Linked DNA regions of Homo sapiens. The protein of the gene in region 1 interacts with the protein of each later gene in a biochemical or structural test. Each region holds a gene or a part of one and is shown on either strand. Other genes may lie near its edges.

What was found.
Region 2: the proteins of NBPF11 (region 1) and CBY1 form a complex in vitro, tested with the Homo sapiens proteins (one study listed by BioGRID).

Annotation. Positions count from the first base shown.
Region 1 is NC_000001.11:148,142,268-148,149,292, forward strand, and holds part of NBPF11 (NBPF family member NBPF11), read right to left. Parts: exon of another isoform or gene 6,894-7,025; intron 4,655-6,893; exon of another isoform or gene 3,799-4,654; intron 1,420-3,798; 5' UTR 1,148-1,419; intron 1-1,147.
Region 2 is NC_000022.11:38,659,636-38,666,660, reverse strand, and holds part of CBY1 (protein chibby homolog 1), read right to left. Parts: intron 1,116-7,025; exon of another isoform or gene 976-1,115; intron 1-975. UniProt on the Homo sapiens protein: Inhibits the Wnt/Wingless pathway by binding to CTNNB1/beta-catenin and inhibiting beta-catenin-mediated transcriptional activation through competition with TCF/LEF transcription factors.

The DNA.
Region 1 (7,025 bases):
TAGTTATTAGAGAGAGACGCACTACTGTAAAACTATATACTGTTTCCATGGGGTACAACCCCTTCTTCCTCCTCTGAAACACATTATTCCTCTGGCCCGCTGTTGCCAGAGACACTGAGTCTTGTCTTTGGATAAGTTCTGGTGCCCCAAAGAATGAGATGAGACAGTGGATCCCAGAACACCAGGCCGCAACCTTCCCTGCTGCTCCTTGTCCACTCCAGAAGCTGCCCGGCTGCAGGTGGGGGCCTCAGCCCCTGGGTCTGACATCGTCCATTTGTCATTCTCACTGGACTTCCCTCCTTGCACTGGCTCCCACTCCCCCAGGACCTGGTGGGCAGCCACGTGAGAAGGATACAAACAGGCCATGCCCCTTTCTTTCTCCCCCTCTCAATGCCTGCAGTGGTGGGTTCCGTGGGGTAGTGACCTGAGATTTACTCATTATGGGGCCTCTAGCCCAGAGCAGGGCATGGTACCTAATAGTCACCCCATGAATGGTCAGTGAAAGAAGGCGTCCACCACAAGGTCCTGGGGAACCAAGAATTCCACTGTGGCCCATAAATTCTAAGTCCTACAGGATTCTGGAATGGGAGATGGGATCGGCCTTCAAAAGTGGTCTCTCTTTTAACCCATTATACTGGCAACTGAGCCATGTTTCCCCATCCTGGACACATCTAGAGGGCACTGCCTAAAACCACACACATCTCCCCACCCAGGACAGTGCAGAGCCTTAGCCTGGGGGATGCGGGTGGACAGGGAGGGGGTGAGCCATGAAAGCTGAAGAGGAGAAAGCAGGTGAAAGAGGACAGCAGGGTGGAAACAGAGAGAGAAATGGGGGCAGAGAATGGGGGGTGAGAGGGGAAGAGAGAGGAGAGGGATGCAGATCTAGCTACCAAGGAAAAGTCCTGAAGAGAACATGTCCTCTCCTGAAGTAAAATCACTTTCACCCGACCATGGCACTGCAAGTCCAGGGCGGCACACGCTGTGAATATTTGTTCATTCATTTAACATATATTTATTTAATATCTGTTTGATGCCAGGCAAGGCCCTGTGATGTTTAGGGCCCTTGGCATCTTCCCTTCACATCTGAGTCATAATAGAAAGAGGACTCTCTGACCCCATCGAGCTGGCAATGCCTCAGGATTTTTACCTGTTGGATCTGGCAGCTCTTCATGTCGGCCCACACCATGTGAAGCTGCTCTTGGTGCACTGAATGGGTAAGTTTCTACATCGGTGCCTCGGAGAGTCCACCAGAAGCCCTGGACAGTGGGAGTTGGTGGCACCCCCAGTGTGGAGGCCAAGAGCACACAGCACTGAAGCTCCAGACATCCTCAGGAGAATGATAAGGGACAATCTGCTCATGAGAGCCTGGGTCACCAGGAACCTTTGCCTGGGTCTAAACAGGATTTGCCTTCAGAATGCCTATGAGATAAAAGAGAGAAATCAAGGTTAACATTGAGATTTGGGGCTTGGGCAACTTGAAGGGTGAAGCTGCCATTTACCGAGACTGGGAAGACCCAGGCAGGAGCAGATTGAAAGGTGGTGGGGAACTAGAGTTGGTTGGGTTTCTGTCATATGTAATCAACAGTCCTCACCAGCCTGTGCAACATAGTAAGACCCCATCTCTGAAAATAAAAAATGAGAAATTAGCCGAGCATGGTGGCGCACACTTGCACTCTCAGCTACTCGGGAGGCTGAGGCAGGAGGATTCCTTGAGCCTTGAGTTAGAGGTTAGTGAGCTATGATGGCACCACTGCACTCCAGCCTGGGGGGAAAAAAATAGAGTTCTGACTAAATATTTGAGTAGCCAGGGAAGTTTTCACAAAGTAAGGAATATTTGAGGTAGATCTTAGTGAACAAGAATTCGATTCTTTCTGTTAGGGAATTAAGAGTGTGTGGGCGTAGTTAATGCTTCTTTGGAATCTCATCTACTGGTCTATCTGGTCTATCTGTACCCGTATATTCTACAGGCTGTCTCACTGAGCTTTCACTAGGTTATGCTGCAGTAACAAAAGCCCCAAAATCTTAGCAGCTACACATACAAAGGTTTATTTTTCATTGGCATTTCCTTTTATGGCAGCTTGACTATGATTCTGCTCTATACAAGCTATTTTATTTGTTAGATGGTGAAAACCGTGACACTTGGAGATTGCTGAATATGGTATTAGTATGTTCATTCATTCATTCATTTAACAAATATTTATTCAATATCTGTTTCATGCCAGGCGAGGTCAAGTACTGAGAATACAGTGGTGAATAAAAGAAACAAAATCTCTAATTTCCAGGAGCTTATATTGAAAATGAGATTGAACACATACAAAAAAAAATAATAACAATAATGAATACTATATTTACAAATAATAGCTGTAAGAGATTTTAGTACCTGTTTTAAATTAGAAAAATATAAAAATTATTAAAACTAAAATGGCCAGATGTGATGGCTCACACCTGTAATCCCAACACTTTGGGATGCCAAGGTGTGACAATCAACTGAGCCCAAGTGTTTGAAACTAGTCTGGGCACCACAGGAAGACCCTGTCTACAAAAAATAAAAAATTAGCTGGGCATGGTGGTGCATGCCGTAATCCCAGCACTTTGGGAGGCTGAAGCAAGCAGACTACTTGAGCCCAAGGGTTTGAGACCAACCTGGGAAACATGTTGAATCCCCATCTCTACAGAAAATACAAAAATTAGCCAGGCATGGTGGCACACGCCTATAGTCGCAGCTACTCAGGAGGCTGAGGCAGGAGGATTGCTTGAGCCAGGAGGTGGAGGTGGCAGTGAGCTGAGATTATGCCAACACACTTCAGCCTGGGCAACAGAGTAAGACCCTGTCTGAAAAAAAAAAATGCAAAAACTAAAATAAAATTGCTATAAGGTTAATATAGAAAAGTGTGTTCATATTCTTAGGCTAGGCATTGATTTCTTTTTTCTTTCTTTTTTTTTTTTTTTTTTTTTTTGGTACAAGACAGAGTCTTGCTCTGTCAACCAGGCTGGAGTACAGTAGTGTAATCTCGGCTCACTGCAACCTCCGCCTCCTGGGTTCAAGCAATTCTCCTGCCTCAGCCTCCTGAGTAGCTGGGATTACAGGTGCCCGCCACCACATCCAGCTAATTTTTGTATTTTTAGTAGAGACGGGGTTTCACCATGTTGGCCAGGCTGGTTTCATACTCCTGACCTCGTGATCCACCTGCCTAGGCCTCCCACAGTGCTGGGATTACAGGCATGAGCCACCGCACCTGGCCAGGCATTGATTTCTTAAACAGGACACAATAAGCAGTAACCATAAAGGAAAAGATTGATAAAGTATATTTCATTAAAATTAAGATACTCTGGCCGGGTGCGGTAGCTCATGCCTATAATCCCAACACTTTGGGAGGCCGAGGCAGGTGTCACTTGAGCCCAGGAATTCCGTATCGGGCTATGCAACATGGCAAAACCCCATGTCTAGTAAAAATACAAAAAACAGCTGAGCATGGTAGTGGTCTCCTGTAGGTCCCAGCTACTTGGGGACTGAGGCAGGAGCATCACCTGAGCCTTGGGAGGTCGAGGTTGCACTAAGCTGTGATTGTACCACTGCACTCCAGCCTGGGCAACAGAGTGAGATCTTGTCTCAAAAAGAAAAAAAATTAGAGAATCTCCATTCATGAAAAAACGTCATTAAAAGAGTGAAAACACAAGCTGCAGATTGAAAAAAGAGAAATGCAATCCATATATATCCTAGAAAGGATGCATATCCAGAATAAAGTATTACAAATCAACAGAAAAGCATATCAATGAAAACTGGATAAAAAGATTTAGGGGCAGGGGTGCGGAGGGACCGACGGACGCACGGGCGGGCGGCCGGGAGCCATGGAGCGCGGCCCTGGGGCCCGGGGGCGCGGGCCGGGGTGGGCTTCCCACGGCACGACATGGAGACCTGTGGTTGCGAGGCTCCCTGGGGCTCGGCTTGGACCGCGATGGGGCTGGGCCCTGGCCTCCTAACGGGGCTGCTGTCTGGGGCGGTAGCTGGGGGGGCGCTCTCCCCCCTGCCCGCGACTCGGAGCACCCCACCCCTCCCCTGCCGGGCCAGGCCGGGCGGCGTTGTTGGCGGGGGCCCCGGTGGAGGCCCGGCCCGGGCGGCGCCCGCCATGAACGGGCTGTCGCTGAGTGAGCTCTGCTGCCTCTTCTGCTGCCCTCCCTGCCCCGGCCGCATCGCTGCCAAGCTCGCCTTCCTGCCGCCGGAGGCCACCTACTCCCTGGTGCCTGAGCCCGAGCTGGGGCCTGGTGGGGCCGGGGCCGCCCCCTTGGGGACCCTGAGAGCCTCCTCGGGCGCACCCGGGCGCTGGAAGCTGCACCTGACGGAGCGTGCCGACTTCCAGTACAGCCAGCGCGAGCTGGACACCATCGAGGTCTTCCCCACCAAGAGCGCCCGCGGCAACCGTGTCTCCTGCATGTATGTTCGCTGCGTGCCTGGTGCCAGGTACACGGTCCTCTTCTCGCACGGCAATGCCGTGGACCTGGGCCAGATGAGCAGCTTCTACATTGGCCTGGGCTCCCGCCTCCACTGCAACATCTTCACCTACGACTCCTCCGGCTACGGTGCCAGCTCGGGCAGGCCTTCCGAGAGGAACCTCTATGCCGACATCGACGCCACCTGGCAGGCCCTGCGCACCAGGTGAGGGCGACCCTGGGGGCAGCTCAGCCTGGGCACACCCAAGAGGGGACCAGGCGGGGGGCCGGGGGGCGGGCTTCCCTGGGAGGAAGGTGGGCGGCCCTGCAGGAGGGGAGCCACAGTGGATGCACAGGGCCAGAGAGCCGGACAGGCGAGCTTGGGTGTGCAGGTGCCGCCTCCACATGGCTGAGGTGTGGCCAGGCGGTCCTCCCACACCCTGGCCTGTGGAGCCAGGCTCCCTGGGAACCCCTGGCCTGAGGATGGGAAGGGGCTGAGCTTGTCACAGGGGTGTGGATGCCACCTGGCGGGAGGGAGTGGGTGGTGGTCTGGGGGTCTGTGCACGTGTGGCTGGGAGCCCATCGGCTGAGGCAGCACTTGGGGCCAAGTGAGGCGAGGCTGCTGCATCCAGGTCCGGAGGACTGGCCCATGAGGCCCTGTGGCTGCGGAGCTTGGCCATCCTGGGGCAGGGCCTACAGGGTAAGGTGCAGACCCGCAGCACACATCCGAGGTCTGGGCCAGCCTCGATTCCAGATCCAGCCCTCCTAGTCATCCACGTCCCCAGCCCTGTGCTTGCCTGGGCCCTTCACCGGTGTTTGAGCAGCGCCCGGGCCAGTGCTGCTTTGGACGAGGAGACCCGGCTGGGCCTCTGGTGGCTTTTCCTGCTCGCCATCCACTGGGCCTGTCTCGTCCTGGCCCTGCCCAGCCCACTGGTCTGACCTGCTCCCGCAGGGACCAGGCACAGCTCTGAGAAGTCAGAGGCCCTAGGGAGGTGGGGTCGTCGTTGCCTTGGTGATATGCAGGCAGTCCCTGCTGTGGGCCTGGGAGCTGGTCCCCTGGCACCACCCTGGCTCCAGGGGCCTCCCGGCAGTTGTGGGACGCTGACACCAATCACCACTTCATGCGGCTTCCTCGGCCCCTCCTGTCTCTACTGCCTGGGCCACTGGCAGAGTCACACCTGCCATGGCCAGCTCTGAGCTCTGTCTGCTCGGCCATCTGTCCTGCTGCCCCTTTGTCCTGCAGGAACCTAGGCCCAGAGCCATGAGGGGGAGGCCAGAGCGTGCCCAGGGCCTCCACTGGGGATGTGTCCCGTTCGTTTGAGTGGTGACATCCAGGTGGCAGCTGGGGGCTCCTGCCTGTAGCAGGTGGCAGGGCTGGGCTGGCTCAGCACACTACTGACCATGGCTGCCAGGGAGCAGGCCGGGGAGGCCGAGGCAGAGCTGGGGCCACAGGCACCAGCCAGGCAGCATCCTTTGGGGCATGGGTGAGTGGCGAGCTGTGGAGTGCTGCCAGGAGGCTGGGATTCCAGGCCAGGGACGGGGACAGCCCTGCTGGTGGAGTCCGAATGCCAGGCAGAGGGGACGCACACCTGCCCATGCTCCTGCCTTGCAAGAGGGCGTCTGCCTGGGATCAGAGCCTAGAGCGTGTGGGAGGAGAGTTGTGGGGTCCCGGCATGGGCAGGGTGGCAGGTGGGTCCCGCGTGCTTGGGACTGGGCACGAGGAGGCCTTGTAACTGGTGCTGGATCAGCTGGGTCAGGGGCCGCACACCAATGACCTGGGGGTGAGGGTGCCCCTGGGTGGGAGCTGGTGGTGCTGAGGTGGCCGAGGACTTGTCCACTCCCAAGGGAAGGTGCTGGTGGGAGGGGGTGCCACCTCCGCAGCCACCACCCTCGATGCTGACCTGGGTTGCACTGGCATCTCACTGGGCGTGGGGACTCCGAGAGTCCAAAATTGGGTGGAGACATTTGGGGACACAGCTGCCTGAATTCCTCATGGCCAAGGGGGTGGGCAAGGGCTGCAGGGAGGAAGAGTGTCCGCTGTCCTGGCCAGTGCACCAGGAACGGCTTTCTAACCCGGGCAGGAAGGTATGAAGCATTCAGGATGTGGGGGCCACACAGTTCCCAGTGTGCACCTAGGGGTGACCAGGAGGAGGAGAGGCGCCAGGGCCTCCCTTACCCCCGCCCCAGGGGCACTCCGTAGGCAGGATCCCTGCAGATCCTAGCTAGGAAACGCCAGTGAACGGCAGCGCAGGGAACGGGGCGGGGCCGCTGGCTTCGCCCACCGCCACGGTGTTGGGGGCTGGGGGTGGCCCTCGGGACTGGTGTGGAGCCTGAGCCTGACCCACTGACTTGGCTGAGTGGGGAGACTGGAGGGTCGCATCCGGAGCTGGGCCCGGGGACGCCCGCTGGTGGGAAGGGTGCGCGCGCGTTGGAGGCCGCGGCTGACCCTGCTCCGGCGCCGCCAGGTACGGCATCAGCCCGGACAGCATCATCCTGTACGGGCAGAGCATCGGCACGGTGCCCACCATGGACCTGGCCTCGCGCTACGAGTGTGCCGCGGTGGTGCTGCACTCGCCGCTCACCTCGGGCATGCGCGT
Region 2 (7,025 bases), on another chromosome or scaffold:
AGATTGATAACAGTGCTCCTCACTTGTCACCAGTGTCACTTGTCAACAGTGCACCTCATATGTCACGTTACCTGTTCTGTTATGGAAGGTGACGTGAGGTGTCCTGAAAAGGGGGCAGGTCCACGACATGGCGGAGCTGACAACAACACCCCCCCAACCTGTACATTTGCTTTTAGCATAATGCAACCTATTGCAATTCACCTAGGCCTAGTTAAGTAGATTTCCTGATAACACCCTGGTTTTTGGGGAGAAAAGGAGGGGAGAAGCAAACTTTTTATTTAGGCTGGGAGCAGTGGCTCACACCTGTAATCCTAGCACTTTGGGAGGCCAGGGAGGGAGGATTACTTGAGCACAGGAGTTCAAGACCAGCCTGGGCAACTTAGCAGGGCCCGTCTCTACCAAAAAAAGGTTAAAAAAGAAAAAAAAATATATATATATATAACATTAATACAGAAAAGTCTACCACAAATCATAAGTGTAAGGTTTCATGAGTTTTTACTACACAAGTATAACCACCCTCCAGGGCCAGGCGTGGTGGTTTATACCTGAAATCCCAGCACTTTGGGAGGCCAAGGTGAGAGGATTGCTTGAGCCCAAGAGTTCAAGACCAGCCTGAGTGACACAGCGAGACCCCCATCTCTAAAAAAATTAAAATCAAGTATTTTTTAAATTTTATTTTTTATTTATGATTTTTTTTTTTGAGACAGAGCCCTGCTCTGTGCCTCAGCCTTGTAAATAGCTGGGATTACAGGTGTGTGCCACCATGCCCAGCTAATTTTTGTATTTTTAGTAGAGACAGGGTTTTACCATGTTGGCCAGGCTGGTCTCGAACTCCTGACCTCAAGTGACCTGCCCACCTTGGCCTCCCAAAGTGCTGGAATTACAGGTGTGAACCAACGCACTGGCTCAAAACATTTTTTTAAAACCACCCTCCAGATTGGGATACAGAGCATTTCAGCACTCCATAAGCCTCACCTGGCCACTGTACATGCACAGAATTGCACAGTGAGTCCTCGTTTGCATCTGGCTTCTCACACTCAACGTCATGTTTCTGACATTTATCCATGCAGCTGTGTGTAGTTATAGTTTGTTCATTTGCATTGCTGGATAATATTCTATTGTATAAACACAGCAAAATTTACTTGTCTACAGAAGATGGACATTTGAGCTGTTTGCAGTTTTGTTTTGTGTTTCTTGAGACAGGGTCTCGTTCTGGTCCCCCAGGTTGGAGTGCAGTGGTACCATCTCTGTTCACTGTAGCCTCAACCTCCCAGGCTCAGGTGATCCTCCCATCTCAGCCTCATGGGTAGCTGGGACTATAGGCACGCACCACCATGCTGGCTAATTTTCTGCATTTTTAATAGAGATGGGAGTTTCGTCATGTTGCCTAGTCTGGTCTTGAACTCTTGGGCTCACGTGATCTGCCTGCCTCAGCCTCCCAAAATGCTGGAATTACAGGTATGAACCACCACACCCGGCCTGTTTCCAGTTTTTGACCACCAAAAATAGTGCTGCTAGGCCAGGCATGGTGGCTTATGCCAGTAATCCTAGCACTTTGGGAGGCCAAGACAGGAGGATCACTTGATGCCAGGAGTTCAAGACCAGCCTAGGCAACATAATGAGACCTCATCTCTACAAAAAATTGAAAAATCAGCCAGGCGTGGTGGTGTACCCTTGTAGTCCTAGCTACTCAGGAGGCTGAGGTGGAAGGATTGCTTCAGCCCAGGAGTTTGAGGCTGCAGTGAGCTGTGATCACCACTGCACACTTCAGTCTGGGCAACAGAGCAAGACCCTGTCTCAAGAAAAAAAAAAACTACTGCTAAGAACATAAGACTTGAGCATGTATATCTACATGCATATGTACACTTTTCTGGTTCCATACTTAGGGGTATAACTATAGAGTCACAGAGCATTCATATATTTAGCTTTAACAGATTCTGCCAAATGGTTTTCCAAAGTCATTGTACCAATTTAGACTCCTATCTGTAGTTTGCAAGAGATCCTTGTCAATATCTGGCACTTTCTTTTTCATCTTTTCCATTCTGGCAGGTATGTAATGGTGTTGCATTGTTTAATTTGCTTTTCCCAAATAACTAATTAAGTTGAGCATCATTTAACATACTCCTTGGACATATATGGATTTTTTTGTGGCATGCTTATTCATGTATTTTGCTTTTTTTTTTTTTTTTTGAGATGGAGTCTCCCTCTGTCATCGGGCTGGAGTGCAGTGGCACAATCTCAGCTCACTGCAACCTCTGCCTCCCAGGTTCAAGTGATTCTCCTGCCTCAGCCTCCCGAGTAACTGGGATTACAGGAACACACCACCATGCCCAGCTAATTTTTGTATTTTTAATAGAGACAGGGTTTCGCTATGCTGGCCAGGCTTGTCTCGAACTCCTGACCTCAAGCAATCTGCCCGCCACAGCCTCCCAAAGTGCTAGGATTATAGGCATGAGCCACCGCGCCCAGCCCTCTTTTGCCATTTTTTAAAATTGAGCTGTCTATCATGTTCATTTTGTAAGGGTTTGTAAGGGTATTTATATACGCTGGATACAAGTTTCACTACTGTATATATGTACAGTACTGAAAATATCTTCTCCCACTTTTTTCTTTTTGCTTTCTCCTTCTTTTTTTTTTTTGAAACACAGTCTCGCTCTGTCACCCAGGCTGGAGTGCAGTGGTGCTATCTTGGCTCACTGCAACCTCTGCCTCCCAGGTTCAAGAGATTCTCCTGTCTCAACCTCCCAAGTAGCTGGGATTACACACACCTGCCACTAAACCCAGCTAATTTTTGTGTTTTTAGTAGAGATGGGGTTTTGCCATGTTGGCCAGGCTGGTCTCGAACTCCTGACCTCAAGTGATCCACCCACCTCCGCCTCCTAAAGTGCTGGAATTACAGTCATGAGCCACTGCGCCCGACCTCTTTTTGCTTTCTTTTTTTTTCCTTTTTTTTTTTTTTTTTTGGAGACAGAGTTTCGCTCTTGTGGCCCAGGCTGAAGTGCAATGGCGCCATCTCAGCACACCGCAACCTCCACCTCCCGGGTTCAAGTGATTCTCCTGCCTCAGCTTCCCAAGTAGCTGAGATTACAGGCATGCGCCACCACGCCCGGCTAATTTTTGTATTTTTAGTAGAGACAGGGTTTCTCTATGTTGGTCAGGCTGGTCTCGAACTCCCAACCTCAGGTGATCCACCCACCTCAGCCTCCCAAAGTGCTGGGATTACAGGTGTGGGCCACCGCGTCCGGCCTCTTTTTGCTTTCTTAATGCAACCTCCGCCTCCCGGGTTCAAGCGATTCTCCTGCTTCAGCCTCCCAGGTAGCTAGGACTATAGGCACGCACCACCACATCCAGCTAATTTGTGTATTTTTAGTAGAGACGGGGTTTCACCATGTTGGCCAGGATGGTCTCAATCTCTTGACCTCGTGATCCACCTGCCTCGGCCTCCCAAAGTGCTGAGATTACAGGTGTGAGCCACAGCTCCCAGCCAGAAGTTCTTAATTATAATGAAATCCAATTATTTATTTATTTATTTATTTATTTTGAGATCAAGTCTTACTCTGTCGCCCAGGCTGGAGGGCAGTGATGTGATCTCAGCTGACTGCAACCTCTGCTTCCTGGGTTCAAGCAATTCTCCTGCCTCAGCCTCCTGAGTAGCTGGGATTACAGGCGCCTGCCACCACACCCAACTAATGTTTGTACTTTTAGCAGAGATGGTGTTTCGCCATGTTGGCCAGGCTGGTCTTGAATTCCTGACCTCCCAAAGTGCTGGGATTACAGGCATAAGCCACTGCACCCAGCCCAATTTATTATTATTTCTTAATGATTAGTGCTTGTATTGTATTTTTAAAATGTTTGCCTACCCCAGGCTGGGTATGGTGCCTCATGCCTATAAATCCTAGCACTTTGGGAGGCAGAGGCAGGCAAATAACTTGAGTCCAGGAGTTCAAGACCATCCTGGGCAACATGGCAAACAAAACCCTGTCTCTACCAAAGATACAAAAAATTAGCTGGGCATGGTGGTGTACGCCTGTGGTCCCAGCTATTCAGGAGGCAGAGGTGGGAGGATTGCTTGCGCCCAGGAGCCAGAGGTTGCAGTGAGCTGAGATTATGACACTGCACTCCAGCTTGGGTGACAGAGTGAGATCCTGTCCCCCGCCCCCCAAAAAAAATTGCCTACCCCAAGGTCATGATGATATTTTCTGTTAACTTCTGGTAATATTATTGTTTGCATTTCACATTTGTGACTATAATTCATCTTGAATTAATATTTGTATATGATGTAAAACAGGGGTTAGTGTTCTTTTTTTCCCCATATATCACCCAATTTTTTATTTTATTTATTTATTTATTTTTTTTTTTGAGACAGAGTCTCATTCTGTTGCCCAGGCTAGAGTGCAGTGGCGTGATCTCGGCTCACTGCAGCCTCAACCTCCCAGGTTCAAGCGATTCTCCCACCTCAGCTTCCCAAGTAGCTGAGATCACAGGCACGCGCCACTAGGCCCAGCTAATTTTTGTGTCTTTTGTAGAGACGGGGTTTCGCCATGTTGCCCAGGCTGGTCACGAACTCCTGAGCTCAAGCGACTGGCCCAACTTGGCCTCTCAAAGTGCTGGGATTACAGGCCTGAGCCACCACGCCTGGCCTATATTATTCAATTTTAATTTATATCACGCACACAGCTTACAAAGAATCCTTCTAAGAAGCCATAGACTGAAGAGAACAACAATGACGGCACAAGTGAGCAAAAAGAAAACAGCCGACCTCTCACTGCTCCTCCTGGGCGTAAGGTCTTCCTTCACTACATTATGAAATAAAAGCAGTAACGGGTTAACTGGATCTGACAAGAAATGGGCCAAAAAAGGCAGGAGGAGGGGTTGGTATCTTTTCAAGACTATTTGAAACAAGGTTTTATATCCATTATCATTAAAAGAGAATTCAAAGTATGAATCCATCACAATCAGCAAGATATGTATCCAATGAGAACAGGAAAAAAAACTTCCAGGCTGTTTTCATTAAGGGAGAAATTGATCTCACTAAAATTAATGATAAAAGTTAAGAAGCTTCTTTGGAATGTATGTAAAACATACAATACATAAGTATATGTATATGTAATTTATAAATAAATGAAGGTATTTGGGGTTATGTGCTCATGACAGCTTTCCTGGTAGTTACGTGTTTGAATTAAAAACAATCATACAGTGGCTCACGCCTGTAATCCCAGCACTTTGGGAGGCCAAGGCAGGTGGATCACCTGAGGTCAGAAGTTCGAGACCAGTCTGGCCAACATGGTGAAACCCTGTCTCTACTAAAAATGTACAAAAATTAGCCGGGAGTGGTGGTGCTCACCTGTAATCCCAACTGCCTGGGAGGCTGAGGCACAAGAAACGCTTGAACCTGGGAGGCGGAGGTTGCGGTGAGCCGAGAACACACCACTGCGCTCCAGCCTGGGTGACAGAACGAGACTCTGTCTCAAAAATAAAATAAACTAAAATAAAATCATAAAAATAAAAAGAATCATAGACCAGCAACTTAGGGGATGGCATTTGGGCCTGGGCACAGCACTTTAGAACTTGGACAAACCAGAGTGCTTCCAGCTTGGTAGTGGAGGGGACGGGGTGGGGACCAAGATGCAGAGGGGGGTTGATGCTATGTCACCATCCAAAACACATTGTAAGGCCCTGGCACTGTTTCTGCTGGAGAAGAGAAAGAGGTTAGAAGAGGGAAAAGCATTAATCTTATGTCTGTAATCTTATGTAAAGGACAGAACAAAAATAAAATAGGAATATCCATGAATAAAGTTCTGGAGACTGAGGCAGGAGAATCGCTTGAACCCAGGAGGTGGAGGCTGCGGTGAGGGAGATCGTGTCATTGCGCTCCAGCCTGGGCAACAAGAGTGAAACTCCGTCTCAAAAATAAATAAATAAATAAAGATGAAAATGCTAGGGTTTGGGGTAGTTTCCCAATTTTCCCAAGGTGCATAGCCATGATCAGTTGGCTGAAGGTGTATATGCGTCTGCGTGTGTGTGTGTGTGTGTGTGTATGTACCTGTACACACACATATATGGTATACGTGTATATACATATGGTGTGTGTGTGTCTATATACACATGTATATACTTATCCTTGTATTAGTAACATGTGAGGCACATCATTAAAAGATGCATTTTCGGCCTGGTGTGGTGGCTCATGCCTGTAATCCCAGCACTTTGGGAGGCCGAGGCAGGTGGATCACTTGAGGTCAGGAGTTCAGGACCAGCCTGGCCAACACAGTGAAACCCCGTCTCTACTAAAAACACAAAAATTAGCCAGGCGCGGTGGCATGAGCCTGTAATCCCAGCTACTCGGGGGGCTGAGACAGGAGAATCACTTGAACCTGGGAGGCAGAGGTTGCAGTGAGCCAAGATCACGCCACTGCACTCCAGCCTGGGTGACAGAGCAACACTCCATCTCAAAAAAAAAAAGTTAAAAAAATGCATTTTCACTCATCATATTGGCAAAAATTAAAAAGATGAATAATACCCATGGTTGATGAGGATGTGAAGAAAAAGACACTGTTATTACTGGTGGAATCAGAAGATGCTATAATTCTTTCAAGGGCACTCAAAACTTGGCAAAATTGTCAATGTGTACACTTTTTGGACAGCAACTCTACTTCTAAAATTTTACACTCCAGAAAGACTTGGACATGCTCACACCCAATGTTCTCTATTGTTGATAACAGTAAAAAATAAGAAACAATCCAAACAATTTGGGTGTAGCCAAATAATTTGTGGCACATTCTTTTTTTTTTTTTTTTTTTTTGAGACAGAGTCTCACTCTGTCGCCCGGGCTGGAGTGCAGTGGTGCGATGTCGGCTCACTGCAAGCTCCGCCTCCCAGGTTCACACCATTCTCCCGCCTCAGCCTCCCGAGTAGCTGGGACTACAGGCGCCTGCCACCACACCTGGGCAATTTTTTGTATTTTTAGTAGAGATGGGGTTTCACCGTGTTAGCCAGGATGGTCTCGATCTCCTGACCTTGTGATCTGC